Homo sapiens: one gene and its partners. The protein of the gene in region 1 purifies or fractionates together with the protein of each later gene. This does not show direct contact. Each region holds a gene or a part of one and is shown on either strand. Other genes may lie near its edges. The genes, in order: TMPRSS12, SIDT2, SOAT1 and ABCA3.

Region 1 (7,024 bases):
TGATTCCATTTATATAAAATTTCAAGAAAAGGCAAACCTATAGAGACAGGAATCAGTAATTTCTTTTTTTTTTTTTTTTTTTTTTTTTTTTTTTTTGAGACAGAGTTTTGCTCTTGTTGCCCAGGCTGTGTACCATGGCACAATCTCAGCTCACCACAACCTCTGCCTCCCGGGTTCAAGCAATCCTTCTGCCTCAGCCTCCCGAGTAGCTGGGATTACAGGCATGTACCTCCATGCCTGGCTAATTTTTTATATTTTTAGTAGAGACGGGGTTTCTCCATGATGGTCAGGCTGGTCTTGAACTCCTGACCTCAGGTAATCTGCCCGCCTCAGCCTCCCAAAGTGCTGGAATTATAGGCGTGAGCCACTGAGCCCAGCCCATCAGTCATTTCTTAAGTGTGGGGCTGGAGCTGGGAATTGATTACAAGTGAGCATAGGAGGACTCTGTGAGGTGAAGGAAATACTCTAAAACTGGATTGTGGTGCTGGTGTAAATTTAGCAGAAATCACTCAACTGCATTGGTACAATGTGTGATATTCATGTTATGTAAATTAAACCCTAATAAAGCTGTAAAAAAATGACAAAAGGGTAAGCTTTTTAACATCACACATTTGGAGAATTCAAAACACACTACTAAATGACTCATATGTCAAAGAGGAAATCATAATAATTTTAAATACTTAGAATTGAACAATAATGTATATGGTACATAACAAAACTTGAGAGCTGCAGATAGAGGTAAAACATAAAATTTAAAGTTTTAGAAATATATATTTTTAGTTTGAGTCTAGGTGCTGTGGCTCACGCCTGTAATCCCAGCACTTTGGGAGGCTGAGACGGGCAGATCACGAGGTCAAGAGTCCGAGACCAGCCTGGCCAACATGGTAAAAAACCTGTCTCCACCAAAAATACAAAAAATTAGCTGGGCGTGGTGGCGTGAGCCTGTAATCCCAGCTACTTGGGAGGCTGGGGCAGGAGAATCACTTGAACCCCTGAGGCAGAGGTTGCAGTGAGCCAAGATAACGCCACTGCACTCCAGCCCAGGGCGAGACCACTTCAAAAAAAAAAAAAAAAAAAAAAAAAAAAAAAAAAAAAATATATATATATATATATATATATATATATATATATATATATATGTTTATTTAGTTAGTTAGTTTGAATCATACGGAAGAGCAAACATTTGACCTAATATTGAAGAATAAAGTCTGAACACTATGAATTCAAAGTCTAGCTTTTTTAAAGTTTAAATAAACATTGCACTGGCCAAGCACAGTTGTTCACACCTGTAATCCCAACACTTTGGGAGGCCAATGTGGGAGAATTGCTTGGGCCCAGGAGTTCAAGACCAGCCTAGGCAACAGAGCAAGACCCCATCTCTCTAAAAAAAAAAAAAAAAAAAAAAAAAAAGAATATTACAGCCAGACATGGTGGTACATGTCTGTAGTCTCAGCTACTATGGAGGGAGGCTAAAAAAAGAAAGAACATTCTAAACCCATAGAAAGCAGAAAAAAAGACATAAAGGTAAGCACTGCAGTTAATGAACAGAAAATAAAGATAGAAAAGAGAAAACCAACAAGCCAAAATCCAGTTTTCTGAAAAAACAACAAACCACTGGTAAGACTGGTGACAAAAGGAAAGAAGGCACAAATACAAATTAATATTATGAACTAACATATAGCACAGTACTTTTTAAAATGTTATGCTGTAAATTTTAGTACTTAGACAAAACGAATAAATTCCTTTGTAAATAACCCAAACTGAAATTAATAAATTGACTAAATATGAAAATGGTAACTAACCAAAACTGACCAAAGAAGAAATGGAAATCCTCTATAGTCCTATAGAGTGTAAAGGAATTGAATCAGTAGATTTCTTTTTCAAAAATAAAAAACCAGAACTCAGAACAAGTGAGTTCTACCATAATACCAGAGACAGATCATCTAAATCCTATACATACGCTTCCAAAGAATACAAAAGGAAGGAATATACTCCAGCTCAGTGTATGAAATAATCATATTATTGATTCCAAAATCAAGTAAACGCAGTAAGAGAAAGCCCAACGTTATAAATGCAGGCATTTCAAACAAATTATTAGTAATAACACACTAAATCTACAAAGTATATTATAGATAGAATTGATGGTCAGGTACAGTGGCTCACATCTGTCATCTCAGCACTCTGGGAGGCCAAATTAGGAGGCTTGCTTGAGGCCAGGAGTTCAAGATCAGCCTGAGCAACATACTGAGACACTGTTGCTACAAAAAAAACCAAAAAATTATCTGGGCATAGTGGTGCACACCTGTAGTCCTAGCTACTCAAGAGGCTGAGGCAGAAGGATCACATGAGCCCAGGAGGTTGAGGCTGTGGCAACCTATGACTGTGCCACTACACTAGGCACCAGCCTAGGCAACAGAGCAGGACGCTGACTCAAAAAAAATAGAATTAATCATAACCAAATTAGGTTTATCTCAGGAATCCAAGGGTTTAAAATTAGAAGTCAGCCAGCTGTGGTGGTTCACACCTGTAATTCGAACACTTTGAGAGGCCAAGGCAGGAGAATTGCTTGGGCCCATTCAAGAATGGCCTGGGCAATATAGCAAGACCTCAACTCTACAAAAAATTTAAAAATTAGCTGGGTGTGGTGGTACACACCTGTAATCCCAGCTACTTGGAAACTAAGGAGGGAGGATTACTTGAACCCAAGAAGCAGAGGTTGCAGTGAGTACGTCACTGCACTCCAGCCTGGGTGACACAGCAAGATTCTGTCTCAAAAAGTAAATAAATAATAATGAAATAAAATAAAATGAGAAGTCTCAGCTGGGTGCAGTGGCTCATGCTTGCAATCCAAGCACTTTAGGAGGCCAAGGTGGGAAGATCACTTGAAGCCAGGAGTTTGAGAGCAGCCTGGGCAACACAGCAAGACCCCATCCCTACCAAAAATAACAATTAGCTGGGCATGATGGCACATGCCCATAGTCCCAGGCACTCGGGAGGTTGAGGTGGGAGGATTGCTTGAGCCCAGGAGTTTGAGGCTGCAGTGAGCTAATTGTGCCACTGCACTCTGGGACCCAGGCAAGAGGGCAAGACCCTGTCTCAAAAATAATAATATAAATAAATAAAATTAGAAGTCTCTTGATGGAATTCATCACAGATTGGTTAAAGGATAAAAAATATTTTCTGAATAAATGCAGTAGAAGCATTGTTAGAAACTCTTAACAGTCTAGACATAGAAGGGAATTTCCTTAACCTAATTAAGGTTAATGACCTCTAACCTACAGCAAACATCATTACAGTAAAACATTCCTTTAAAATCAAGAACAACTTCTCCACTTGTATTCAATACTGTAGAAGTACTACCAAGTGTGTTAATACTAGAAGAAGGTACACACACAACTTACAAAGGAAATAACAAAATATTCATTAGTCACAGATGATGTAACTAAAATAGGCTCTAAAATCCATTGGAATTAACAGAGTTTAGTAATACAGCCAGCATAAGACCATATACAAAATCTACTCCATTTCTATACACTAGCAGTAATTTTAAAACAGCCTCCCAAAGTGCTGGGATGACACACAAGGATGACTATAATTAAAAAGTTAGACAATAACAAGCATTGATGAGGATGTGAAGAATTTGAAACCCTCGTACTTTGCTAGTGGGAATATAAAAAGGCACATCTGGCCAGGCATGGTGGCTCACACCTGTAATCCTAGCACTTTGGGAGGCCGAGATGAGTGGATCACTTGAAGTCAGGAGTTCGAGAACAGCCTGGCCAACATGGTGAAACCCCATCTCTACTAAAAACACAAAAATTAGCTGGGCATGGTGGTGAGTGCCTGTAATCCCAGCTACTCAGGAGGCTGAGGCAGGAGGATTGCTTGAACCTGGGAGGCAGAGGTTGTAGTGAGCCGAGATCACGCCACTGCACTGCAGCCTGGGTGACAGAGTGAGACGCCATCTCAAAAATTAAAAAAAAAAAAAAAATTAGCCAGGTGTGGTGTTGCACACCTGTAATCCCAGTTACTCAGGAAGCTGAGGCACAAGAGTTGCTTGAACCCAGGAGGCAGAGGTTGCAGTGAGCCGAGATCACGTCACTGCACTCCAGCCTGGGCAATAGATCAAGACTCTATCTCAAAAACGAACAAACAAACATTTAGGTAAACATTCTTCTACAATCTTCCTAGGCATACATACATATTCATACACATATATATGAATATAATTTTACATAATTATTGCATCAGTCACTTTGGAAAGAAAACATAAAACACTAACATTTAAATCACTGTAAAAATGTCTGCTCCAAGATAACTTACTGGTATTTTTTGTTAACAGGTAACGCTACAAATATTTTACAAGATGCAGAAGTGCATTATATTTCTCGAGAGATGTGTAATTCTGAGAGGAGTTATGGGGGAATAATTCCTAACACTTCATTTTGTGCAGGTGATGAAGATGGAGCTTTTGATACTTGCAGGGTAAGACCAAGTAATTTTCCTTTAAAATATTTTCTGAAGCCAGAAGGGAACTTGTCAAACAAGGCCTTTGATAACTTTCTGGTGGTCTTAATTATCAGGCCTAAAAATAATAAATCATTTTTTCTCCTTTTTAACTATTTCAACAATCCAAATCTTCTTGGTTCCTGATTCCATGGTTTCTGCTGTCATCAGTAGGCAGAATTTACCTTGAATTCTTTTTTTTAATCATTACCTTTGAGATATAATTCACCTAGTTAAAAGTGTACAGCTCAATTTTTTTTTTATTTGAGATAGTCTCGCTTTGTCACCCATGCTGGAGTGCAGTGACACAATCTCTGTTCACTGCAACCTCTGCCTCCCAGGTTCAAGCGATTCTCATCCCTCAGCCTCCTAGGTAGCTGGAATTACAGGCACACATCACTATGCCCGGCCATTCTTTTTTTTTTTTTTTGTATTTTCAGTAGAGACAGGGCTTCACCTTGTTGACCAGGCTGGTCTTGAACTCCTGACCTCAAGTGATCTGCCCACCTTGGCCTCCCAAAGTGCTGGGATTACAGGGGTGAGCCACTGCGCCCAGCCTGTTACTGTCTTTTTTATTATAACCATCCTTGTGGGTGCGCAGTGGTATCTCATAGTGGTTTTAATTTGCATTTCCTTAATGACTAATGATGTTGAGCATTTTTGCATGTATTTATTAGCCATTTATATATCTTCTTTACAGAATGTCTATTTGGATCCCTTCCTCATTTTTAAATTGAGTTGTCTTTTTATCACTGAGTTATAAGCATTTTTCATATATTCTGGATACAAGTCCCTTACCAGATACATAATGTACAAAATTTTTCTCCCATTCTGTAGACTGTTTTTTCACTTTTCTGAGGTTATCATTTGCAGCACAAATGTTAATTTTTTTAATGAAGTACAATTGATCCATTTTTTGTTTTGTCTCATGCTTTTTTACTCTTCCTTTATTCCTCTTTTCTTCACTATTTCCAAAGCTACTAGTCCTTCACTCCTGAGTAACCCATGCTCTCACCTTTTCCTACTCATTCTCATTTCTGCAATCTAAAGTTTATCTTTTCTGTGTCCTTTTCCTTAAAAATCTTGCTGAATGAAATAGTAAAGAATCCAATCTAAGTGAATTGCATTCCTAGGCCAAACATCCTCATCATCAAAAAATAATTATTCAATGCCTGCCTTATATAGAGAATCGGAAACAGTTATCTCAGTGTCCTTGTTGTTTTCAGTGCATTAACAGGCCTTAGTAACAGCATTTGGGTGCATTCCTAATTTTGTATAGACTATGAAAGTGACCTGTCATTTATAATACTACTGAGAGGCTTTGCCATTTATGCTCATTTTCCTGCACTAGCTATTGTCAACACTTAGAAACTTGTCTTCTATTGCAAGATGCCAGTTTACTCCTCTCCCTGGCAAGCAAACCACACACGTGCCTAAAAGAATCCTTCATACATCTTAAAGTTATCCTTTCCACACGCAGTATTCAGCAAGAGAATATTCTAATAATAGACAGTTTTGACAATATTTTGCACACTTCCTAAATTATATTTCTCCTAAGTAATTATATTTAAAAATCCAAACAATTTGATTTATAGTATTCTGGCTCAAAACCAGGCAGATGAGAAATTTATCTACCAGCTATATGGTTCCTCCAAATACCTGGGTAAAATTGAATTCCTCCTGTTTGAGTTGGAAGTTTAAGCTCAAAATCTAGTGATCTTTATAAATTGGGGGTATATTGAAAATGTGTATTTATATAAATGTATGTTTGATGTAAATAATTTATTCCAGTGTTACTGTTGCTTGAAGAATACTAGAAGTAACAAACACTATTTTGGGACTTTTTTGACAGGGTGACAGTGGGGGACCATTAATGTGCTACTTACCAGAATATAAAAGATTTTTTGTAATGGGAATTACCAGTTACGGACATGGCTGTGGTCGAAGAGGTTTTCCTGGTGTCTATATTGGGCCATCCTTCTACCAAAAGTGGCTGACAGAGCATTTCTTCCATGCAAGCACTCAAGGCATACTTACTATAAATATTTTACGTGGCCAGATCCTCATAGCTTTATGTTTTGTCATCTTACTAGCAACAACATAAAGAAATTCTGAAGGCTTTCATATCTTTATTTTGCATTGTGTCCCTTTCTATGTTCTATATAATGAACATCATTTATTCTTCTAGCAATTAATTGCCTACATTAGAGATTTCATGTGAACATTTTATGGGCTATAAGTATTGTGACAGATATACAATTGTAATTTTGGCACTGAATCACATGTCTCCTTGAAATATCTTGATTATTTTATAATCATAATTCTGTATCTGGAATACTCATAGAGTTTGTACAAAATATTCAGTTAAACATATATTTTATGTGTATAAATGCCAAATAATAGTTTATAATTAAAATGAAAGCTGTCATTTGGTTAAATTAATAAAAATTCTTTCTTAGATTTTATTCTAAAAAATGTTTGTATGATTTTTTTAAATTATAATCTTGTTTCCAATTCT
Region 2 (7,941 bases), on another chromosome or scaffold:
AACTTGTATGATGGAAAGAAGTGCTGAACTCTTGCTGGAGCTGCTTATGTCTGGGACAATTCTTTCTAAGCACCAAATGAAAAAACAGCCCTTTTTATAATCACAGTGAAAACAGAAAGCTTCAGGTTCATTTCCTTCAGAGGGGTTGGTTTTGAATCTTTTTTTTCTGGGTTAAAGTTATACCATTACATGATACTAAAATCTGTTTTGATTCTGTCTCCCACCCATAGGCATGGCTACTCCCTACCTCCCAGGTTCCTAAATAATTTGATTGGATTCAGCTAATCCATTTACTGTGATTCTTACAAAATCCTGCTCGAGTGCAGTCTTCATGTCTTTTGTGTGTGTGTGTGTGTGTGTGTGTGTGTGTGTGTGTGTGTGGCAGTTTCACTCTTGTTGCCCAGGCTGGAGCACAATGGCCTGTGGTCGCACACTGCAACCTCTGCCTCCCAGGTTCAAGTGATTCTCCTGCCTCAGCCTCCCGAGTAGCTGGGATTACAGGCGCCTGCCACCACACCCAGCTAATTTTTGTGTTTTTATCAGAGACGGGGTTTCACCATGTTGGCCAGGCTGGTCTCAAACTCCTGACCTCAGGTGATCCACCCACCTCAGCCTCCCAAAGTACTGGAATTACAGGCGTGAGTCACCGCCCCTGGCCATTTTTTTTTCTTTTTTTTTAGTGGTGTTTCACTCGTTGCCCAGGCATGCAATGGCGTGATCTCAGCTCACCGCAACCTCTGCCTCCCAGGTTCAAGCGATTCTCCTGCCTCAGCCTCCGAAGTAGCCGGGATCATAAGCATGTGCCACCACGCCCGGCTAATTTTGTATTTTTAGTAGAGACAGGGTTTCTCCATGTCTGTCAGGCTGGGCTCGAATTCCTGATCTCAGGTGATCCGTCCACCTTGGCCTCCCAAAGTGCTGGGATTACAGGCGTGAGCCACTGCACCTGACCTAATTTTCTGTATTTTTAGTAGAGACGGGCTTTTACCATGTTGGCCAGGCTGGTCTCAAACTCCTGACTTCAGATGATCCAACCGCCTTGGCCTCCCAAAGTGCTGGGATTACAGGCGTGAGTCACCGCACCAGGCCATCTTCAGGTCATTTTAACAATACCCCTGAGCCACCTGAAGCTTCCTCCCTGTCCTCTCACCCCAAACTTCATAAATCCCCTGTGACTTAAAATGGAGCTGGACTCATGGGTCCAGCAAGCTCCTCAGCTGTGTGTTGAATGGTCCCATTTCTTTGGTCCATTCAACACTCAGGCTCAGGAAGGGTGGTCCACAGGGAAATATAAGTCAAATAAGCCTTATGGCCCCACCCTGACCGCTTGAGGGCCACGGTTAGGGTTGAGCTCTTTGTATATTATGCCAGGGAATGCGGTAGCTGGACCTGTGCACAAGGCCAGGATCACATCCCTGAGGCCCCGACATCTCCCCTGTGTGCTCACAAGTCTGGCTTTGAGACACACCACTGCCTTTTTTTGCTGACTGCTGCAGCCAACAAAAAGGCATTCTCTCCCAGTGGACAGACCTCAGAAAGGACCTATTCATAAGTGCGGGGTAGGGCAGAGGGACTGAGGAAAGTTCTGCAGACCTGGGAACAGCAAGAAAATGTGCAGTTGCTGCCCTCCCACTCTGTAGACGCAGGGTCCTGACGATTCAAAAGTTAAGTCTTGAGACCTTGCAAAAGGGAAGGATCCCTTCAGAGTTTGCTTGGATGGATTTCTCTCCAGATATTGCCAGCGGAAAGGGAGCAAACAGAAATAGTGATAGTCCACAGTTGTTTGGTTCCAGAGCAGTGGTTCTCAAACTTCATTGTGCATAGCAAGCTTCTGGAGTGCCCCGTTAAATTGCAGTTTTCTGGGCTCCACCTCCCAAGATGAATTAAGTGTGAAGTAGGACTCTGGATGTGCGTTTAAAACAGGCGTAGGGTCACATCTTGCCCCAAAGTTATGAGGCCAACTTAGAGTAGTGGTGCTTGCCTGTAATCCAGCTACTCGAGAGGCTGTGGCAGATCGCTTGAAGCCAGGAGTTCAAGACCAGCCTGGGCAATGTATCACGAGTGTTTCTTAATGTTTCAGATTATTTACTGGCAAGATGAGCAGGATTACCATGAAAGAAAAGTCCAGATGGACTGAGGAAATCCTACACTGATTCTCCAAACTTGGCAGCTGACTGCATGGAGGGCTCATGATGAAGAAACCTCTTTTGCCATCCTGAGGATTCTCTGATTCATATTCGCCTAGATGTGCTGGAAACAGTACTGGACCAAGGTGCAAACTTGAGTCTAGTGAGGTACTAATGGGCTGAAGTTTTTCTGAGCGTCACTTTCCTCATCTGTATAATGAGGGGTTGGCCAAGGAAACCCATAAGGTTATCTTCCAGCTGACTTTCTAATTGGTGAACCCTTTGGAAAAGGGGTGCAGCTTGCTTCTGGTCTTCATCCTCAAGTATGCTGTGCTTGGACAGGGGCCAAAACTAATTCCTCCACTCACCATTTGCCCAGCATAACTACAACAGTACCTGGCACATCGTGGATGCTTATTAAATATTTATTGCAGGAATGAGTAAATATAACTAACTGATCATAAGGTAAAATAGTCTTCATTGGAACAAGGCTCCAGATAGTTGGGCAGGGCTGGGAGCTGAGACTGCTGCAATCCTGCCAGCTGAGAGAACTCTGACAAGGCACTGATCTGGGTGGCTTTATTAGGATGTCTGACAGCTTCAGAGGTGGCCACATTTCTTTTCCTTTAAACATGTCTAATTTGGCCGGGCGCAGTGGCTCACGCCTGTAATCCCAACACTTTGGGAAGCCTAGGTGGGTGGATCACTCGAGGTCAGGAGTTCGAGATCAGCCTGACCAATATGGTGAAACCCCGCTTTACTAAAAATACAAGAAATTAGCAGGGTGTGGTGGCGGGTGCCTGTAGTCCCAGCTACTTGGGAGGCTGAGGCAGGAGCATCGCCTGAACTCAGGAGGCGGAGATTGCAGTGAGCTGAGATCACACCACTGTACTCCAGCATGGGTGACAGTGAGACTCCATCTCAAAAAAAAAAAAAAAAAAAAGTCTAATTTGTCTTATAAATGCAATATATGTGGCCAGGCATGGTGGCTCATGCCTATAATCCCAGCACTTTGGGAGACTGAGGTGGGTGGATCACCTGAGGTCAGGAGTTCGAGACCAGCCTGACCAATATGGTGAAACCCCGTCTCTACCAAAAATACAAAAATTAGCTGGGCGTGGTGGCACATGGCCTGTAATCCCAGCTACTCGGGAGACTGAGGCAGGAGAATTGCTTGAACCCAGGAGGCAGAGGTTGCAATGAGCTGAGATTGTGCCACTGCACTCCAACCTGGGCAACAGAGCGAGACCCTGTCTCCACCCCCCGGCAGATAAAAAAGCAATATATAAATATATATACATTGTAGAACATTTGTAAATCTTTTTAAATATAAAAAATAAAATTTAAGAACCACTCACAATCCATTATTTTTTATTTTTTGGTACTACTCTATATTTTTAGAATTAAAGGAAAATGATATACAATATGTGTTATTTTTAAAATTGTAATTCAAAGATAACTACTGCTAAATTTTATTTTTAAAATTTGCCCTGCTTTCTGGAGACATTGCTAAATGTTTAGTACAATTTTTTTCTATTTTTCTATGCATGTCTATATGCATTTGGAATATATACGGTTTTATTTACTTATTTATTTTTGAGACAGAGTCTTGCTCTGTTGCAGCCCAGGCTGGAGTGCAGGAGCATGATCTCAGCTCACTGCAACCTCCGCCTGGTAGAGTTAAGCGATTCTCCTGCTTCAGCCTCCCCAGTAGCTGGGATTACAGGCACGCGTCACCACGCCCCACTAATTTTGTATTTTTATAGTAGAGATGGGGTTCACCATGTTGGCCATGGCTGGTCTCGAACTCCTGACCTCAAGTGATCTACCTGTCTTGGCCTCCCAAAGTGTTGGGATTACACGTGTGAGCCACGGCACCTGGCTCTATATACTGTTTATTTAGTGTCATATCCTGAATTCTCTGCTTACGTGTCCTGTGAAGTCTTAAGCATCATTTTTGATGCCTTCATGATAGTGCATTTAACCAATCCCTCATTATGGATATCCAAGTCATTTCCTTTTTGCTTTATATTATAAATATCACAGTGATAAGCGTAGCTGCCCAGGTATTTTTATCTGTGCTTCCTATTTCCTTAGGATAGAGTCCAGAAGTGGAATTACTGGATCAAAGGGTATAAAGCTCTCTAAGTTTCTTGAAACAGTGCCAAAATATTTTGTAGAAAAGTTTTCACCAATTTACACTGAAGGTCAGTATCTTTCAATGAGTTTTGTAACTGTCTCTGAGAGAAGAGGGGAAACAGCCCGGCAAGCTTGGAAAGCTCGGAAGGCCGTCCCTGCAGTTGTGTGGCCCCTCTAGAGGGAGGTGGGAAAGGCATGGGGATTCCTCCTGCAGTGCTGCCTCCGTTTCCCCTCCGCCGGTAGGGCCACCGTCCTGTTTCCTAATCCTTCGAGTTTTTCATTTTTTAAGATCCCCGGAGAAAAAGTGGCCCAGGGTTGGACGATGTTAGTTGTAAAGGTGGTGGTGGGGGTGGGGGAATCCTTATGTTTGAGCAAATGTAAGAGTTGTTCAGCAAGAACCCAACACTTGGAGATTGTTAACAGAAACATCTGCCTATTCCAACGTGAGTTTCAGAGATGGTGAAAATCACGGGAGAGAGTTGGGTAGGAGTTGGAGAAGGCATTGCAAGCTTTCCCCTTCAGCTAGACAGCTGCAGCCCCTTTAAGGGCAAATGCGGGACCTGGTCCTTTAAATCTGTGTCAGTTTCCCCTGACGTCAGCGGGCGGGCCAGCAGCCCTGCTGTTTATCGCCCAGCGGCGCAGCTCACTTTTCAGTGTTCGTGCGTCGGGACGGCGCGTCCGCCCGCCCTTAAAGGGCCCGCACCTCGGAAAACTCGCAGCCCAGCACGGCGTCGGGTAGCTACCACCTATCACGCCCCTCACTCTGCGACTCGCCTTCCTCCGCGGCCAGCCCCCGCCGCCGGCTCTTCCTCCCTCCCCTTTCCCGGCGTCTCCAGGCTCCCGGCAACCAGCCGCCCTCCTTCTCACGGCCCTGGCCCGGGGCTCCAGGGTCTCAGGTCGTACTCAGCCCCTCGCGAGCTGGGACCCCTTCCCGTAGCCAGCATCCCCTCCCTCCCCGCCCCCTCCCGGCCGCCCCCTCCCCTGCGGGGACCCTGGGAGCCTCTTCGGGGCTCTTGGGAGGGGACATTTCCTAATCTCAGGCCGGGGTTAAAGTTCTGGTCCTGGTGAGATGCTGGAAGCTGCGGCCGCAGCCGCAACCCGTCCCGGAGGTGTCCTGTCTCCTGTCGCCGCCGCCGCCGCCACCACCGCTGCCACTGCCGCCCTGCCGGGGCCATGTTCGCTCTGGGCTTGCCCTTCTTGGTGCTCTTGGTGGCCTCGGTCGAGAGCCATCTGGGGGTTCTGGGGCCCAAGAACGTCTCGCAGAAAGACGCCGAGTTTGAGCGCACCTACGTGGACGAGGTCAACAGCGAGCTGGTCAACATCTACACCTTCAACCATACTGTGACCCGCAACAGGGTGAGGGCTGGGGGCTTAGGGGCCAGAGGCGAGTGGGGAAGCCGACGAGGGCTAGGCGATTCTGCCGCCCCGCTACCCTTTTGGGAGGCCCCAGGAACGAGCTGTCCTGCTAGGTTCCCAGTTCCCAGAACCACACTGGAGCCTCTTGACCAGTCCTCCTTCCTTTGCCACCAATGTTTCTCTGAAGCTCCAGCTGGGCAGTTTTTGAAGTTGGCTCATTCCCATCTTCTCTTCCGCCCCCATTCTTCCATCAGTTGTGGTCTGAGCACACATGGCTTGCTCTCTACCCTAAACCCCAGAATCTGACAGCTCTGTGGGGTCTCGGTGGGAGAGGAAACAGGCTTATTACTGGGCTTGCCCAGAAAACCTCAGGGGAATGAGACTGGCCCAGAACTGAAAAGCTCTGTGCAGGCAAGTTACATCTCAGACTCCCCAGGGAGATGAATGCAGGGCTTCCCAGCCCTCTTCCTGCCTGGGAGAGCCAGCTGGCCTTGTAAATTGAGGGTGACAGAGGTTTTATAAGGCCAACTGCAAGTTGGGTGGGAAGAGAAGGGGAATTTGTCCACTGTGAAAAATCCACTTCACCCTGACTTCTCTTTGGTTTCTTCACCAGCTGTGAGTCCCTGAGTTGAAATAGACACAGCTAGTGTGGGAAGTCTAGACCCCAGGCAGAGCTGAGATTGGGAGAATTCTTGCAACCTGGCTGTGTGGTCTCGTGCCCGGGTCTCTTGCTCTCTCTCCATGACTGCCGTTTACTGAGAAGCAATGGAGTTGAGAATGGGGAATCTGATTTTTTTTCAGAACGGGGAGTGGTTTGGTTTCTGTGGCAGGCCAGGATCTGCCCCCAGTGCCTGGTTCTCTGAAGTTTGATCTCTTTCTGCTTAGAGTCCTTTCTTCCTTTTTTCCCATATCTAAAGGCACTGGAGAGCTGTGGTTTTTACTCTTTTGGGAAATGCTGCCCTAGGGCTTGGGTTTCAGCAGCCCAATAACAAGCATTCCAAGATCGATTTGGTTTTATTTTTCCTTTAAGCTCCCATTGTTTATATATGTTCCTTCATAGCTCCAAGGGTGAAGATCACTTTATCTTTTTTTTTTTTTTTTTTTTTTTGAGACCAGTCTCACTCTGTTGCCCAGGCTGAAGTGCAGTTTTGTGATCTCAGCTCACTGCAACCTCCGCCTTCCCGGTTCAAGCGATTCTCCTGCCTCAGCCTCCCAAGTAGTTGAGATTACAGGCGCCTGCCACCATACCCAGCTAATTTTTGTATTTTTAGTAGAGATGGGGCTTCACCATGTTGGCCAGGCTGGTCTCAAACTCCTGACCTCAGATGATCCTCCTGCCTTGGCCTCCCAAAGTGCTACAAGCGTGAGTCACCGCACCCGGCTGTCATTTTATAGAGGGAGAAGTTGAGGCTTAGAGAAGTAAAGTGACTTCTCCACAGCCCTGTCCCTTGGTGGGAGCTAAGGATACAACATGGCCTTCAATACCTACCCCTCCTCAACTCCTCTGGGCTCTGGCCCCAGGTTAGCTGTTAACTAGAGCTTCCTGCTGGCTTCCTGGCTCACAGGAAGGTTGAGGAGCACTTCTTGTTCTCCTGTGTCTTCGTGTGTGGGGGCGTGTGTACACGTTTGTGTGTGCAGGCCTGTGCATCCTGTGCACATGGATAGGAATGGGGTATCCTGGAGACTCGCAAGGCCTCCACCGTGTTTCCTGGCAGAGGGTGAGACCCTGCGGTTGCTTGGGTCCTGCTGCCCTGCACATGTCTGCCGGCCAGGAGCTGCACTCAGCACAGGTCTTTCCTGGAGTCTGGGGGTTGTTCTGGCAGAAGAAGAGGCAGAGATGACTCCCTGGCCCGACCAAGATGGAGAAAGACCAAAGTAGCTGGCATGAAGGAGGGCAGGGCTCATAGTCTCTGGAGCCACGTGTCCCTGGTGGCAGAGGCTTGAGAGGCATTTCCATGTCGTTCTGCAGACAGAGGGCGTGCGTGTGTCTGTGAACGTCCTGAACAAGCAGAAGGGGGCGCCGTTGCTGTTTGTGGTCCGCCAGAAGGAGGCTGTGGTGTCCTTCCAGGTGCCCCTAATCCTGCGAGGGATGTGAGTAGGATCTGGGCATCAGGGAAGCGGGGCAGCCTAGGCCAGTCCTTGGCTGGAGCCTCAACCAGGAGCCCCCCCATTTCTCCTCCCCTTTCCCTGGGCTGGGAGGCTGGTCAACAGCACAAGGGCCGAGTCCCACCAGCCGGGAGCTTGTGCACCTCGCAGGGAGGTGGTGGAGACCAGACGGGGCGAGGTGGGGCCTCGCTCCTCTGGAGGGGCAGGCCGGCTG
Region 3 (7,024 bases), on another chromosome or scaffold:
CAAAACATGTTTTCTATGGCTTAGATGAGTTTTTATTAGACTGTGAAGATCCTTGGTCCAGAGATTGAGTAGTAGTATATTAGATTACTCAAAATCATTTAAAAGATTAGCATTATCTTTCCAAAAACAAGTTAAAACAAGTTTAAAAACCTGTTTTAGTCAGATATAAAAGATTATTTAGGAAAAGTCATCTATATTATTGTTATATTCTAAAAGAAAATTAGACCAGTCTTAAATACAAAAGTCAATGAGAAGGTAAAATCTTTGTAAATGGTTGAGTTTTATAGACGTGTAGGGTAGTAATTGGTTATCATCATCATCATGATCAACATTATAGAAACTCATGTCAATTTTAACATTTTGGAAATAGGTAGTACTTAATATATATTAAATTTAGGGAGTAGAATATGAATAGGATTAAAAAATTCTTAACATTTGAAATAGTTTGTTTCCTGTTTTTAGTGACTGGCCTTTGTTTACTTAGAAAACATCCATTTCTGGTAGGTTTTAAAGAATGTAGACCATTCTTTTTTGAGATGTTTTTGGAGAGTGGATTAAGCATCTTCTCAACTGCTTTAAGTTAACTGCTTTAAGAAAAGATTTTATGGTGTTTTAAATTTAAATATACATTATTAACTTGTTTTGTTTGAACTACATTTACAGTGAACTGCTTGAAGTGGACCACATCAGAACAATATATCACATGTTTATTGCCCTCCTCATTCTCTTTATCCTCAGCACACTTGTAGTAGATTACATTGATGAAGGAAGGTAAGACAACAAAAAAGATGGCTGGCTAGTTGATGCATGAGAAGTTAGAGGTTTTCACTAAATTTTGGTAAAGGGTAAATTGATTAAATTGCTTCAGGAAATCCTAAAGCAGCAGATTTGAGGGTGATATTCCTTTGCCCTGAAAAGTTTAACTGATGGAGAAAATTAGAAGTTTCATTACTTTTATTTTTAAAATGGTTTATTTGAATAGACCATAATCAGTAATTTCTAGGTAATTTTCCCAAATGGGAGAACTTTATACACAGTTGACCTACGAACAGCACGGGTTTGAACTGTGCATGTCTATTTATACACAGAATTTTTTCAATCAATGTGTTTAGCACTCTGTATCCATGGGTTCTACATCTGCAAGCAAAGGCTGATTGGGATCTAGAGTATTCCAGGATGCAAAACACACATATAAGAATGGCAGATTTTTCATATCTGTGGGTTCCACGGGGCCAACTGTGGGCCTCGAATTTGCATAAGTTTTGGTGTCTGCACAGTTTCCTGGAACCAACCCCCCATGTATAGGGAGGGATAACTGTATATGACTTATTAACTTTTTGATTGTCTTTATTTAAGATGGTTACTTAAAACAAGTAGCTTATTGGAATTGAAGGTTGAAAAAGTTGATATTTCTTTTTAATGTGAAAGTCAAATTATAGGCCAGGCATGGTTGCTTGTGCCTGTAATCTCAGCACTTTGGGAGGCCGAGGCGGGAGGATCACTTGAGCTTAGGAGTTGGAGACCAGCCTGGGCAACATCTCTACAAAAAATTTAAAAATTAGCTGGGCGTGGTGGCAGACACTTGTAGTTCCAGCTACTCAGGAGGCTGAGATAGGAGGATCGCTTGAGCCAGGGAGGTTGAGGCTGCAGTGGAGCTGTGTTTGTGCCACTGCACTCCAGCCTGGATGCAAAGGAGACCAGATCTCAAAATAAAATTTTAAAACTCAAATTGTAGCTTAAAAAATGACAGCGTGGTAATCATGGATTGAATTATGTACTTTTTTTGAAAATTAAGTTTGGAGATAATGGTATAGTATATTAACATATTTTTAAATTGTACCTATTTCTTCTGAAAAATCATCTTTTGTACATAAGAACGATTGCTGTTTGAATATTTTCCATAGAATATTTTACAGTTAGAAAATTAATGTGAGAATCTAATCTTTCAGAAGTTCAAAGTCCAATTATCTTAGATATCTTAAGTTTGAAGACTGTATTTATCTTAGGGCTTTTAGAAAATTTGTTTCTAAAGAACATATATTGTTGATATATATATATATATATATATTGTAAAGCAGATGGTTAGAAGCAGATCTCTAACTAGCAGAACTATTACATCCATGACTTCAGCGTATTAACGTTGTGGTGTTTCCTAAGGTTGAAAGTTTGGTGTTTGAAACTTTTAAATTCTGTGAACTCAGTGTATATTAAAAATTCACCTCTATGTTCTTTTTCTGTACCTTTTCTCCCCAGGCTGGTGCTTGAGTTCAGCCTCCTGTCTTATGCTTTTGGCAAATTTCCTACCGTTGTTTGGACCTGGTGGATCATGTTCCTGTCTACATTTTCAGTTCCCTATTTTCTGTTTCAACATTGGGCCACTGGCTATAGCAAGAGTTCTCATCCGCTGATCCGTTCTCTCTTCCATGGCTTTCTTTTCATGATCTTCCAGATTGGAGTTCTAGGTTTTGGACCAACATATGTTGTGTTAGCATATACACTGCCACCAGCTTCCCGGTTCATCATTATATTCGAGCAGGTAAGGTTTTAAGTGTTACCCAAGGCGATGCTGTCCTCGGCTAAAATAATAATAATGATGATGACATACTGATACTATTATTTTTAGCTGTATTAACTTGGATAAATTTTCATATATTGTTCTTTTGCCATTATCTGTAAAATTGTTAAACTAGAATCATCTCACCTCTTAAGTTTCATTGTAGCTTCCATGTTCTCTGAATTTTGATAAATAAATTACGTTGAACTTTTTTTTTTTTTTTTGAGACAGAGTCTCGCTCTGTCACCTAGGCTGGAGTGCAGTGGCACCATCTCGGCTCACTGCAACCCCTGCCTCCCAGGTTCAAGTGATTCTTCTGCCTCAGCCTCCCAAGTGGCTGGGACTGCAGGCGCCTGCCACCACACCCGGCTAATTTTTGTATTTTTAGTAGAGATGGGGTTTCACCATATTGGCTAGACTGGTCTCAAACTCCTGACCTTACGATCCGCCTGCCTCGGCCTCCCAAAGTGCTGAGATTACAGGCGTAAGCCACCGCGCCCGGCCACATTGAATTATTTTTGATGCATCAAGATTTTGTTTCTGAATACTTTTTGTAAAAGTCATTTAAATTATAAAATATTTTCATAATTAAAAACTTCACTTTTGAAATGTCAGATTCATTGTTTTGTCATGTAACTATATAATAAAGGTTTTATTTTAATTTGTTTATACACTTATCAGGATTTTCTGACTTTACTGGCTATCTATAATGCATTTGACTAATGGAAAGGACACTTGCAGGAGACTTTCTTTGAAGAGACATCTTTTTCCTCCTGCTTTTGTAGATTCGTTTTGTAATGAAGGCCCACTCATTTGTCAGAGAGAACGTGCCTCGGGTACTAAATTCAGCTAAGGAGAAATCAAGTATGTAATTTCTTTTGTTCATTATTTCTTCCTCCCCTCCCCTCCTCTCCCCCCACCCCATTCCCTTCCCTTCCCTTCCCTTCTTTCCTTCTTTCCTTCCCTCCCTCCCTCTCTCTTTTTCTCTTTCTCTTTCTCTCTCTCTCTCTTTTTCTTTTCTTTTCTTTGTGTAATTTCATTAGTTTAAAGGATTATTGGCTGGATATTTCACCCTTTGTTGTTTTCTGGGATGTCACATTATATAATGTAGAGATTGTGTTTTATTTCAAATATATATTATCCATATTGATTTTGAGGACCACTTCATTGTTTCCTGACTATTCCGGCTTTGCCCTTGAACCTACAATTTTAAAAAATTGATTATCTTTTGCAACTTTGCATTATTTTTATGGAATGTTAATAGCCTCATTACACCTGTGCCTGCCTATTCTTTGCAAATTGTTGCTTCACACTCTAGAAGTTATCTCAGTCACAGGAATAACTTGGTTTAAAGAGATTGGTAATATTCAATTCGTGCAAGAATAAGAAGTCATTCCGGAGATCAGGAAAAAAGAACATGAGCTGATAAGTCATTTTATTCTTCCCTGTTCTGTGCTTCCTTATATTCCCCCCTGTATTTTTGCTGTGAAAAATCAAAGAGCCTTTGCTCTAACTATAGTTTTCCTTTTCTAGGCACTGTTCCAATACCTACAGTCAACCAGTATTTGTACTTCTTATTTGCTCCTACCCTTATCTACCGTGACAGCTATCCCAGGTAATGGTACTGTGAACCAGAAATGTGGTAAACACCAAAAGTGTGGCATGAGTGAGGTGGGATAGGTAAACAGGGGCCAGTTCATGTAGGGACATAGAAAATATAGAATGAGTTTTCATTTTCTGTCTGACCTGAGAAGCCTCAAATGGTGAGTAGGGAAGTCTAATTTGATTATAGTAATTCTTGACAGAATTATAAAGTATTTCATATGGTCATAAATGATGTTCTGAATTAATTAATTTTTATTTATTTTTATTATTTTTAATTTATTTTTTATTAATTAATTAATTTTAGTTTTTTCTGAGATGGGAGTCTTGCTCTGTCACCCAGGAGTGCAGTGGTGCTATGTCGGCTCCCTGCAACCTCTGCCTCCTGGGTTCAAGTGATTCTCCTGCCTCAGCATCCCAAGTAGCTGGCATTACAGGTGTGTGCCACCACGCCCGGTTGGTTTTTTTGTATTTTTATTAGAGACGGGGTTTCACCATATTGGCCAGGCTGGTCTCGAACTCCTGGTCACTGCCTTCCAAAGTGCTTGGATTACAGGTGTGAGCCACCGCGCCTGACCAAAAAACATTAATTGTGAGGGTCTTTATTCAAGTTCAATTACTTTATTTAGAAACCTTATTTTTGTTTCTTTCTTTTTCAGGAATCCCACTGTAAGATGGGGTTATGTCGCTATGAAGTTTGCACAGGTAAGTTTTTGTAACTGCCTAAGGTATGTTGATTAGGGGATGGGGATTCATATTTATGATAATAATATAATCTAGTTAAATCTAATTGGGAGCTAAGAATGCTTTCTGTTGACATTATGCAGTCTTTTAAACTATTTCCAGTACGGTAAATGGTGTTTGTTTTGCCAACATCAAAAGTAATTTTCTTTAATAAAAGAATATATTAGGCTGGGCGCAGTGGCTTGCGCCTGTAATCCCAGCACTTTGGGAGGCCTAGGTGGGCAGATCGCGAGGTCAGGAGTTCAAGACCAGCCTGGCCAACATGGTGAAACCCCATCTCTACTAAAAATACAAAAATTAGCCTGGCGTGGAGGCACGTACCTGTAATCTCAGCTACTCAGGAGGCTGAGGCAGGAGAATTGCTTGAACCTGGGATATGGAGGTTACAGTGAGCTGAGATCACTCCTCTGCACTCCAGCCTGGGCGACAGAGCAAGACTCCATCTAAAAAAAAAAAGAATGTATTATTTATAAAGTAATTCTAATTGGTTATTTCAGTAAGCATTAATTTCCCCCTTCCTTCCTGTTTTTGGGGGAGGTATATATGTATGTGGGTATAGTCTGACTCTTACCCATTCCTCCTCCCACCTCCATCAGAATCATTAATCCTGGAAGATCCCATTTTAAATTAGTGTCTCAATCAAATGCCCATTTATGAAGTAAGTTCTTTCATTAAGGGGTTTTTTTTTTTTTTTTTTTTTTTTTTTTTTTTTTTTTTTGAGAAGGAGTCCTGCTCTGTTACCGATGCTGGAGTGCAGTGATGCAGTCTTGGCTCACTGCAACCTCTACCTCCTGTGTTCAAACGATTCTCCTGCATCAGCCTCCTGAGTAGCTGGGATTACAGGTGCCCACCACTGCGCCTGGCTAATTTTTGTATTTTTAGTACAGATGGGGTTTCACCATGTTGGCCAGGCTGGTCTCGAACTCTGACCTCAAGTCATCCACCCGCCTCAGCCTCCCAAAGTGCTGGGATTACAAGCGTGAGCCACTGTGCCCGGCCATGTTACGGGTTTTAAGCAGCAGGAAAACAGGTTCCAAGAGTAAGCTCTTCTAAAAATATCATTTGGTAAAGGGTTAGGAAAAGTGATGGTAGAAACTAGGCTTGAGTAATCTCCCTGAAGGATTATAGCAGTCTTCTATACTAGTGTTAAATGGAATACATATGCGAACATTACTGTAAGGGTCACATCTGTACTTTCTTTTGGAGAGAAAAAAATCGCCTTCCATCTTATTAAGCCATCGTTATTATAATTCTGTCTCTGTTATGTTCCAGGTCTTTGGTTGCTTTTTCTATGTGTACTACATCTTTGAAAGGCTTTGTGCCCCCTTGTTTCGGAATATCAAACAGGAGCCCTTCAGCGCTCGTGTTCTGGTCCTATGTGTATTTAACTCCATCTTGCCAGGTAACATGGGTACTTGTTAATTTGGTCATGCATAAATTCACGAGGTAAATAGAAAGCTATTGCCTATGAGCACCTTTGCTTTGCCTACTTTTTCATCTAAACTTCTATACATCTATGCCCATCTTGACCTCTTTTGCATCTACTTTATAAATGAAGTATCCTTCATCCAGTCTCAGGTCAGTCTTTCATCTTATGGCTTTCACTCAAGTTGTGCCTTTCTCTGACAGTGGACAGTCCACATTCATGCTGTGTCTTCCTGTTCGCTATTAAGTTCATTGTAATCTTGCTCCTGATTCCACCAAGCCACTTAAATGCCCCTTGTTGAAATTACTAGTAACTTGTAGAAATTACTTGTAGAAATTACTAGTAATCCATATTCTAATCCAGTGGATGGATTAAGATGTACTTTACCCCTTATCCAAGTTGACCTCCATGAAGCATTGGGTGCTGCTGACCACATTTTTAAATCTCTCTTGTCACTGTTTTCTTGCCTTTTTTTTTTTTGAAATCGGGTCTCTCTTTGTCACCCAGTCTGAATGCAGTGGTGTCATCATGGCTTACTAGCCTCGACCTCTGGGGCTCGAGTGATCCTCTCGCCTCAGTAGCTGGGACTACAGGTGCATGCCACCATGCCTGGCTAAGTTTTTATTTTTTGGAGAGACGGGGTCTCCCTATGTTGCCCAGGCCATTCTCAAACTCCTGGGCTCAAGTTATCCTCCTGT
Region 4 (7,024 bases), on another chromosome or scaffold:
TTGTGCATTTGTTCCTACCTCATCCCCACAAGGGCCACTGAGGTTATAAATTGGCCTTGGCCAGTGCAAGTGATTCACATCTGTAATCTTGGCACTTTGGGAGGCCAAGGCGGGAGGATCACTTGAGGCCACAAGTTGGAAGAACAGCCTGGGCAACATGGCAAGATCCCATCTCTAAAAAAAAAAAAAAAAAAATCAAACAATTAGCCGGGCATGGTGGTGCACACCCATGGTCCCAGCTATTTGGGAGACTGAGGTGGGAGGATCACTTGAGCCAGGAGGTCAAGGCTACAGTGAGCCATGATCACACCACTATCTATACTCCAGCCTAGGCAAAAGAGTGAGACCCTGCATGAAAAAAAAAAAAAGGCCTCAGACTTTTTTTTTCATGTGTACTGTTATGTGTAAAAGAATGAATGTAAACATGCAGCCCAATATATATTATGTGTTATAAATTACAATTACTGTCCTGATGTATTATGGACATAGAAATATATACAAATTTGGATCTTTTAAAGGGACGAAGGCCAGACAGACATGGTGGCTCACACCTGTATACCCAGCACTTTGGGAGGCTGAGATGAGACAATCCCTTAAGGCCAAGAGTTTGAGAACAGTCTGGGCAACATAGTGAGACCCTGTCTCTACTAAAAAAAAAAAAAAAATAGCCAGGTATGGTGGCGTGCACCTGAAGTCCCAGCTACTGTGGAGGCTGAGGAGGGAGGATCGCTTGAGCCTGGGAATTCAAGAATGCAGTGAGCTATAATGATGCCATTGCACTGCAGCCTGGGAAACAGAGCAAGACCCTGTCTCTAACAGAGAAAAAAAAAAAAGGATGAGAGGTGAAATAAACATGATTAAATTTATCCAACATATGAATGCTACAAAAACTATTGTATAAACATGCTTTTTAAAGATGAAAGCCATGTGTCCACATCCCATTTATAAACTCTCATTGAATCCTAAGTCCCAGCATTTAAGATCAATTGTAAGTTCTGTTTATTGGCCAGACGAGGTGGCTCACGCCTGTAATCCTAGCACTTTGGGAGGCCGAGGTGGGTGGATTGCTTGAGGTCAGGAGTTCTAGACCAGCCTGGTCAACATGGTGAAACCCCGTCTCTACAAAAAAAAAAAAAAAAAAAAAAATTAGCTGGGCGTGGTGGCGGGCACCTGTAATTCCAGCTACTCAGGAGGCGGAGGCAGGAGAATCACTTGAACCTGGGAGGCAGAGGTTGCAGTGAGCCGAGATTGCACCTTTGCACTCCAGCCTGGGCAACAAGAGTGAAACTCTGTCTCAAAAAAAAAAAAAAAAGTTCTGTATATTTCAGGCCCTAGTTATTAACAGCATTTACACATTAACATGATACAGAGAAAGGCACAGACCCTGTGCTTACGAGGCAGGGTACTTGTTTTTCAATTTCATTTACCCATCATCTGAGGGCCCTTGATGAATTTGGGCTGGGTATGTTCAGGGGCTATCAGGGTAGGTGGAGATTCTGGTGTTGAAGATGTTTTGGTGTGCGGGTGTAAATGTTCATATAGACAGTACGCTTGTAGCATCATTGGGAACGCAGTCACGTAATTGTGGAAACCTCTTCAAACGTCTGTTTTCACAAATGCTCTATTCTTGGTACAGATTCTTTTTGAAAAGCTGTAACTCTCATATACTGTCACTTTTTCTTTGAAGGGACAGATTACGTTGTGTCTATTTAAAAGAAAAAAGGTAGATGACACACTGCTGCAGTCATTTGTCATTAAAAACGAAAAAATGTCTCCGGATTTGGAACTTTTCACAAAAGAAAATCTGTACCTTCTCCTTAAATTCTCTGACTCTTTGAAATACTAAGCCATGAAATGACCAGTAAACCTCCAAGTCACACAAAAGATACTCATGGTCATTTTCCACATCACTGCGAAGCATTGTAAAGCTTTCGCTATTTAAGGGTCTTGAGTTTTTGTGGTTTGTTTGTTTGTTTTAATTGACCACAACTGGAAAGCTCTGAAACTTGTAAACTCCAACACGCCTAGGATGCTTAAAGTAGACTTGTGGTGAGGGCCCACCATCACTCCCCACATCACAGGGTGCCTCCTCCTCAGTCAGGATGCCACGGCTGCTGACATACAAGCCAGCGTGAACACCAGGGTCTGTCCAAGTATTAAATGTCAGTAAAGCTGGCAGGGTGTGGTATCGCATGCCAGTGGTCCCAGCACTTTGGGAGGCTGAGGCAAGAGGATCATTTGAGCCCAGGAGTTTGAGACCAGCCTGGGCAACATAGTGAGACTCGTCTCTACAAAAAAAAGCCAGGTGTGGTGGTACATGCCTGTAGTCCCAGCTACTTAGGAGGCTGAGGCAGGAGGATCACACCACTGCATTCCAGCCGGGATAACTGTGTGTGACTGAGATCCTGTCCCTACAGGAAACAAACAAACAAACAAACAAATCAGTGAAGCCATTTTTTTCACATTTTTAAAGAAAAATACTTACAAGTAGATTTTTTCATCACTTTTTCACTGCTGCAGGTTGTCTAGCCCACCCCATTTGGAGACCACTGGGAAGGGGTGAGGACCATACTCTATAAATGTGCCTGCTTTTTTTATATATTAATAATATTTAGGGCCGGGCACAGTGGCTTACACCTGTAATCCCAGCACTTTGGGAGGCAGAGGCAGGCAGATCACTTGAGGTCAGGAGTTCGAGACCAGCCTGGCCAACATGGTGAAACCCCGTCTCTACTGAAAATACAAAAATTAGCTGGGCGTGGTGGCGAGTGCCTGTAATCCCAGCCACTCAGGTCGCTGAGGCAGGAGAATCGCTTGAACTCAGGAGGTGGATGTAGCCATGAGCCAAGATCACGCCATTGCACTCCAGCCTGGGCAACAAGAGTGAAACTCCGTCTCAAAAAAAAAAAAAAAGAACTAATATTTAAGTCTGGCACGGTGGCTCACACCTGTGATCCTAGCACTTCAGGAGGCTGAGGCAGGTGGATCACCTGAGTTCAGGAGTTCAAGACCAGCCTGGCCAACATAGCAAAACTCCATCTCTACTAAAAATACAAAAAATTAGCTGGGTGTGGTGGCGGGCATCTGTACTCCTCAGCTACTTGGGAGGCTGAGGCAGGAGAATCACTTACTTGAACCTGGGGGCCGGAGGTTGCATTGAGCCAAGATCGGGCTGCACTCCAGCCTGAGTGATAGAGCGAGATGCCGTCTCAAAAAAAAAAAAAAAAATTACTGGTGTTTGGGCATTTCATCCACAGGATCCATTGAATTAGACATTTTCAAATATTTACTGTGTACCCGTCTCTCAAAAAAGATAATGTCCTAGATAAAGGATTAAACAAAACCAGTCACCCTCACCCAGCATCACTGCCCATTGGGACACACCCCGAGCTCCCTTCTTGGTGCAACATCCAGCGCCTTGATGACATGGGCCCAGGGTCTGCGCCTTTCCTGGCTCATTCTCTGCACTGCCACTCGGAATGACTCGCTGCTCCCCATACACAGTCTGTCTCCAGGATCCTGTAATGTCCTTCCTGTCCCAACTAATGAGTCATTCAAGACCGGCTTCCCATGTCACCTCCCCCCATCACCCTCCCGGGCCATCTCCCTGTCTTGCTCGCTGTCTCACACACGCAATTAATTCCTGTCTTCTCCTGAATCTTGCCATACTTTATTTAGCATCCGTCACAGCAATTACAGTGCATGCAAGTGTTCAGGGACTGTGAACTCCTTGGATTAAGAATGTTATCATCGGCCAGGCGTGGTGGCTCATGCCTGTAATCCCAGCATGCACTTTGGGAGGCTGAGGCGGGTGGATCACAAGGTCAAGAGTTTGAGACCAGCCTGGCCAGCATGGTGAAACCCTGTCTCTACTAAAAATACAAAAAATTGGCAAGGCATGGTGGCGCACGCCTGTAATCCCAGCTACTCAGGAGGCTGAGGCAGCAGAATCGCTTGAACCCAGGAGGCGGAGGTTGCAGTGAGCTGAGATCACACCACTGCAGTCCAGCCTGGGCAACAGAGTGAGACTCCGTCTCAAAAAAAAAAAAAAAAAGAATGTTATTTTCATTTCCAAATCCTTAGTACCTTGTACAAGTGCCCATCAGACAGCAAAAACTTGGCAATTGTTGAATGAACAAATGCTTTTTTGTCTTGTATACCCTAAAAGACCATGGATTCTACCGGCCTCCATTAATTGACTGTCCTCCGTGCCTCAGTGCGCATACACGCGGATCTTTGATGCTGGCTGGCTGTTGCAGACTCCTGGTGTCAATATTGGGATGTTGGGTCCTCCCCTGAAGGAAAAGCACCAAATGTGACCAGCACCACACCTGTGGCAAAGCGAGCAGAGCCATGGTTGGCGGCTCTCTTTGTGCATCTTGGGGCGGTTCACCTGTGGCTTTATCAAGGCCCCCTTCTTTCCATGAGTGGATTTCTCTATGCCTTTGTGGACAGGCTTTCATGGAGGGAGGTGTAACCAAGCTCAGAATACAACAGGAACACATGGCGTAATGGGTCTTGTGCCCCTCACTCTGGCCTGTCCCTTCTGTTCATGGGTCTCAAGACCCACCACCCCCAGGGACCTCTGCTCCATATATGCAGATATAAAAACTTCTTTTGAAAGGGCTCATAAGGGCCAGGCAGCATGGCTCATACCTATAGTCCCAGTACTTTGGGAGGCCAAGATGGGAAGAAGATTGTTTCAGGCCAGGAGTTTCAGACCAGCTTGGGCAACATAGCAAGACTCCATCTCTGCAAAAAATATAATAAGTAGCCAGGTATGGTGGCATGTGCCTGTGGTCCCAGCTGCTCAGGGGGCTGAGGCAAGACGATCACTTGAGCCCAGGAGCACCAGGCTGCGATGAGCCCTGCTCACGCAACGGCACTCCAACCTGGGTGACAAAGCAAGACTGTGTAAAAAAAAAAAGGGCACATAGGAATTGGGTGGCAAATTCAAGCCTATGGTGCACACAAAAATACCTGCAAACCACAAATAAAGAAATGGAGGAGGCAATCGGTGCGGGTCTTTGGACACAAGAAGACAGCCACAGCTGTGGCACACTGCAAACGCGGCAATGGTCTCATCAAGGTGAACGGGCGGCCCCTGGAGAAGATTGAGCCGCCCACGCTACAGTACAAGCTGCTGGAGCCAGTTTTGCTTCTCAGCAAGGAGCGATTTGCTGGTGTGGACATTCGTGTCCGTGTGGAGGGTGGTGGTCATGTGGCCCAGATTTATGCTACCCGTCAGTCCATCTCCAAAGCCCTGGTGGCCTATTACCAGAAGTATATGGATGAGGCTTCCAAGAAGGAGATCAAAGACATCCTCATCCTGTATGACCGGACCCTGCTGGTAGCTGATCCCCGTCCCTGCGAGTCCAAAAAGTTTAGAAGCCCTGGTGCCTGTGCTCGCTACTAGAAATCCTACCGATAAGCCCATCGTGACTATCAAAATTCACCTGTATAATAAACAGATTTTGAAGGATTTTAAAGTTTCAAGGAAAAAAAAAAAAGAAATGGAGGAGTTTGGGATTTCTCCAATTTGCTGCTGAGCACTGGCCGCCTGAAGAGCCACAGCGCTTGTTAACTGGCACAGCCGATGGCTCTTGAGCTGACAACAGTTACTGGAAAGACCATTTGTAGAAGAATTTGTGCCATCAAGAGAGTTCTGAGAAATGAGCAGCCTGCAGTATGCGCTCACTCTGCACCGAGTCAGTTGCTTACCTAAAAAACAAACATTGAGATACTCAATGATATGTGTGATGTTTAATATTTTAACAGTAAGCAAACCTTTTATAGAGAGGGGAAAAGGTTTGCCTTCCCTTTCCTGACTGTGTCCCGGGACTAGTGAAGAGAGCCTCTTCAAAGGGAAGTTCTTGAAGCTCTGCTCTTGTCCTCTTGCTGGGCAGAGGCGGCAGCTTTAGGAGTGGCTGGAGTCCTGAGTGTTTAACTTAGAGTAGCTGATGGGGGCTCAGCCGGGGCCGGTCCTGGGCCTCAGTCATCAGCACTTCTGGAGACTCTGCCGCCTCGGCGTCAAGTGCAGAAGGAACATTAACTTCTTTCTCTTGTGTACATTTGCTTTTGTAACAAAAAACTTGCCAGATTTTGTAATTCTAGGATCTCTTCCTTTAAACTCCTTTTGCTGAAACAGAACAGATGCAAGCGTAGTGTTCAGTGAGACTTTAGGTAAAGCCTCACACGTATCAGGCAACAAGCTGGGTGCCGTGGGGGCACAGAGATAAAACCTCGGCAGGGCACAGTGGCTCACGCCTGTAATCCCCACACTTTGGGAGGCCGAGGCGGGCGGATCACTTGAGGTCAGGAGTTTGAGACCAGCCTAGCCAACATGGCAAAACTCCGTCTCTATTAAAAATACAAGAATTAGCCGGGCGTGGTGGCATGTGCCTGTAGCTACTTGGGAGGCTGAGATGGGAGGATCACTTGAACCTGGGAGGTGGAGGTTGTTGTGAGCCGAGATCGTGCCCAGCCTCGGCGACAGAGCGAGACTCTGTCTCAGAAAAAAAGAAAAGAAAAGAAAAGAAAACTTCTATTAAGGTGATGGGGCTTAGGGGTCTTTTTTACCTTTCAGTTTCTGATGTTATGTTCTAGGAGTGATATGCAAAACTTGTATGAAGTTGGAAGTTGTTCTGTGTTTTTAGGACCCACAGGTTGTAGTAGTGTAGTAGTTAGAAGACAGACTTGGAAGTTAAAACAAGCCAAGGTTCAAGCCCTGACTTGGCAGCTTCTTGCTGTGTGATTTTGGGCCAGGCATTTCCTCCTTGTTTCTTCGTCTGCAAAAGGGTGATGTTCCAGGTCAGGAGATCGAGACCATCCTGGCTAGCACAGGGAAACCCTGTGTCTACTGAAAAATACAAAAAAAATTAGCCGGGCGCTGTGGTGGGTGCCTGTAGTCCCAGCTACTCGGGAGGCTGAGGCAGGAGAATGGCGTGAACCTGGGAGGCGGAGTTTGCAGTGAACAGAGATCGCGGCACTGCACTCCAACCTGGGAGACAGAGTAAGACTCCGT

What was found.
Region 2: the proteins of TMPRSS12 (region 1) and SIDT2 purify together in Homo sapiens (affinity purification with mass spectrometry; 2 studies listed by BioGRID and IntAct, with this or other methods). This does not show direct contact.
Region 3: the proteins of TMPRSS12 (region 1) and SOAT1 purify together in Homo sapiens (affinity purification with mass spectrometry; 2 studies listed by BioGRID and IntAct, with this or other methods). This does not show direct contact.
Region 4: the proteins of TMPRSS12 (region 1) and ABCA3 purify together in Homo sapiens (affinity purification with mass spectrometry; 2 studies listed by BioGRID and IntAct, with this or other methods). This does not show direct contact.

The regions. Positions count from the first base shown.
Region 1 is NC_000012.12:50,880,904-50,887,927, forward strand, and holds the end of TMPRSS12 (transmembrane protease serine 12 precursor), read left to right. Parts: intron 1-4,342; coding exon 4,343-4,485; intron 4,486-6,358; coding exon 6,359-6,610; 3' UTR 6,611-6,981; downstream 6,982-7,024. UniProt on the Homo sapiens protein: Required for male fertility. Plays a critical role in sperm capacitation and acrosome reactions during fertilization, and also plays a role in the regulation of proteins involved in spermatogenesis.
Region 2 is NC_000011.10:117,173,826-117,181,766, forward strand, and holds the start of SIDT2 (SID1 transmembrane family member 2 precursor), read left to right. Parts: upstream 1-4,917; 5' UTR 4,918-5,438; coding exon 5,439-5,621; intron 5,622-7,590; coding exon 7,591-7,712; intron 7,713-7,941.
Region 3 is NC_000001.11:179,338,775-179,345,798, forward strand, and holds part of SOAT1 (sterol O-acyltransferase 1), read left to right. Parts: intron 1-663; coding exon 664-771; intron 772-2,253; coding exon 2,254-2,536; intron 2,537-3,235; exon of another isoform or gene 3,236-3,339; coding exon 3,340-3,418; intron 3,419-4,087; coding exon 4,088-4,169; intron 4,170-4,815; coding exon 4,816-4,861; intron 4,862-6,172; coding exon 6,173-6,302; intron 6,303-7,024.
Region 4 is NC_000016.10:2,330,720-2,337,743, reverse strand, and holds part of ABCA3 (phospholipid-transporting ATPase ABCA3), read left to right. Parts: intron 1-5,010; exon of another isoform or gene 5,011-5,497; intron 5,498-7,024. UniProt on the Homo sapiens protein: Catalyzes the ATP-dependent transport of phospholipids such as phosphatidylcholine and phosphoglycerol from the cytoplasm into the lumen side of lamellar bodies, in turn participates in the lamellar bodies biogenesis and homeostasis of pulmonary surfactant.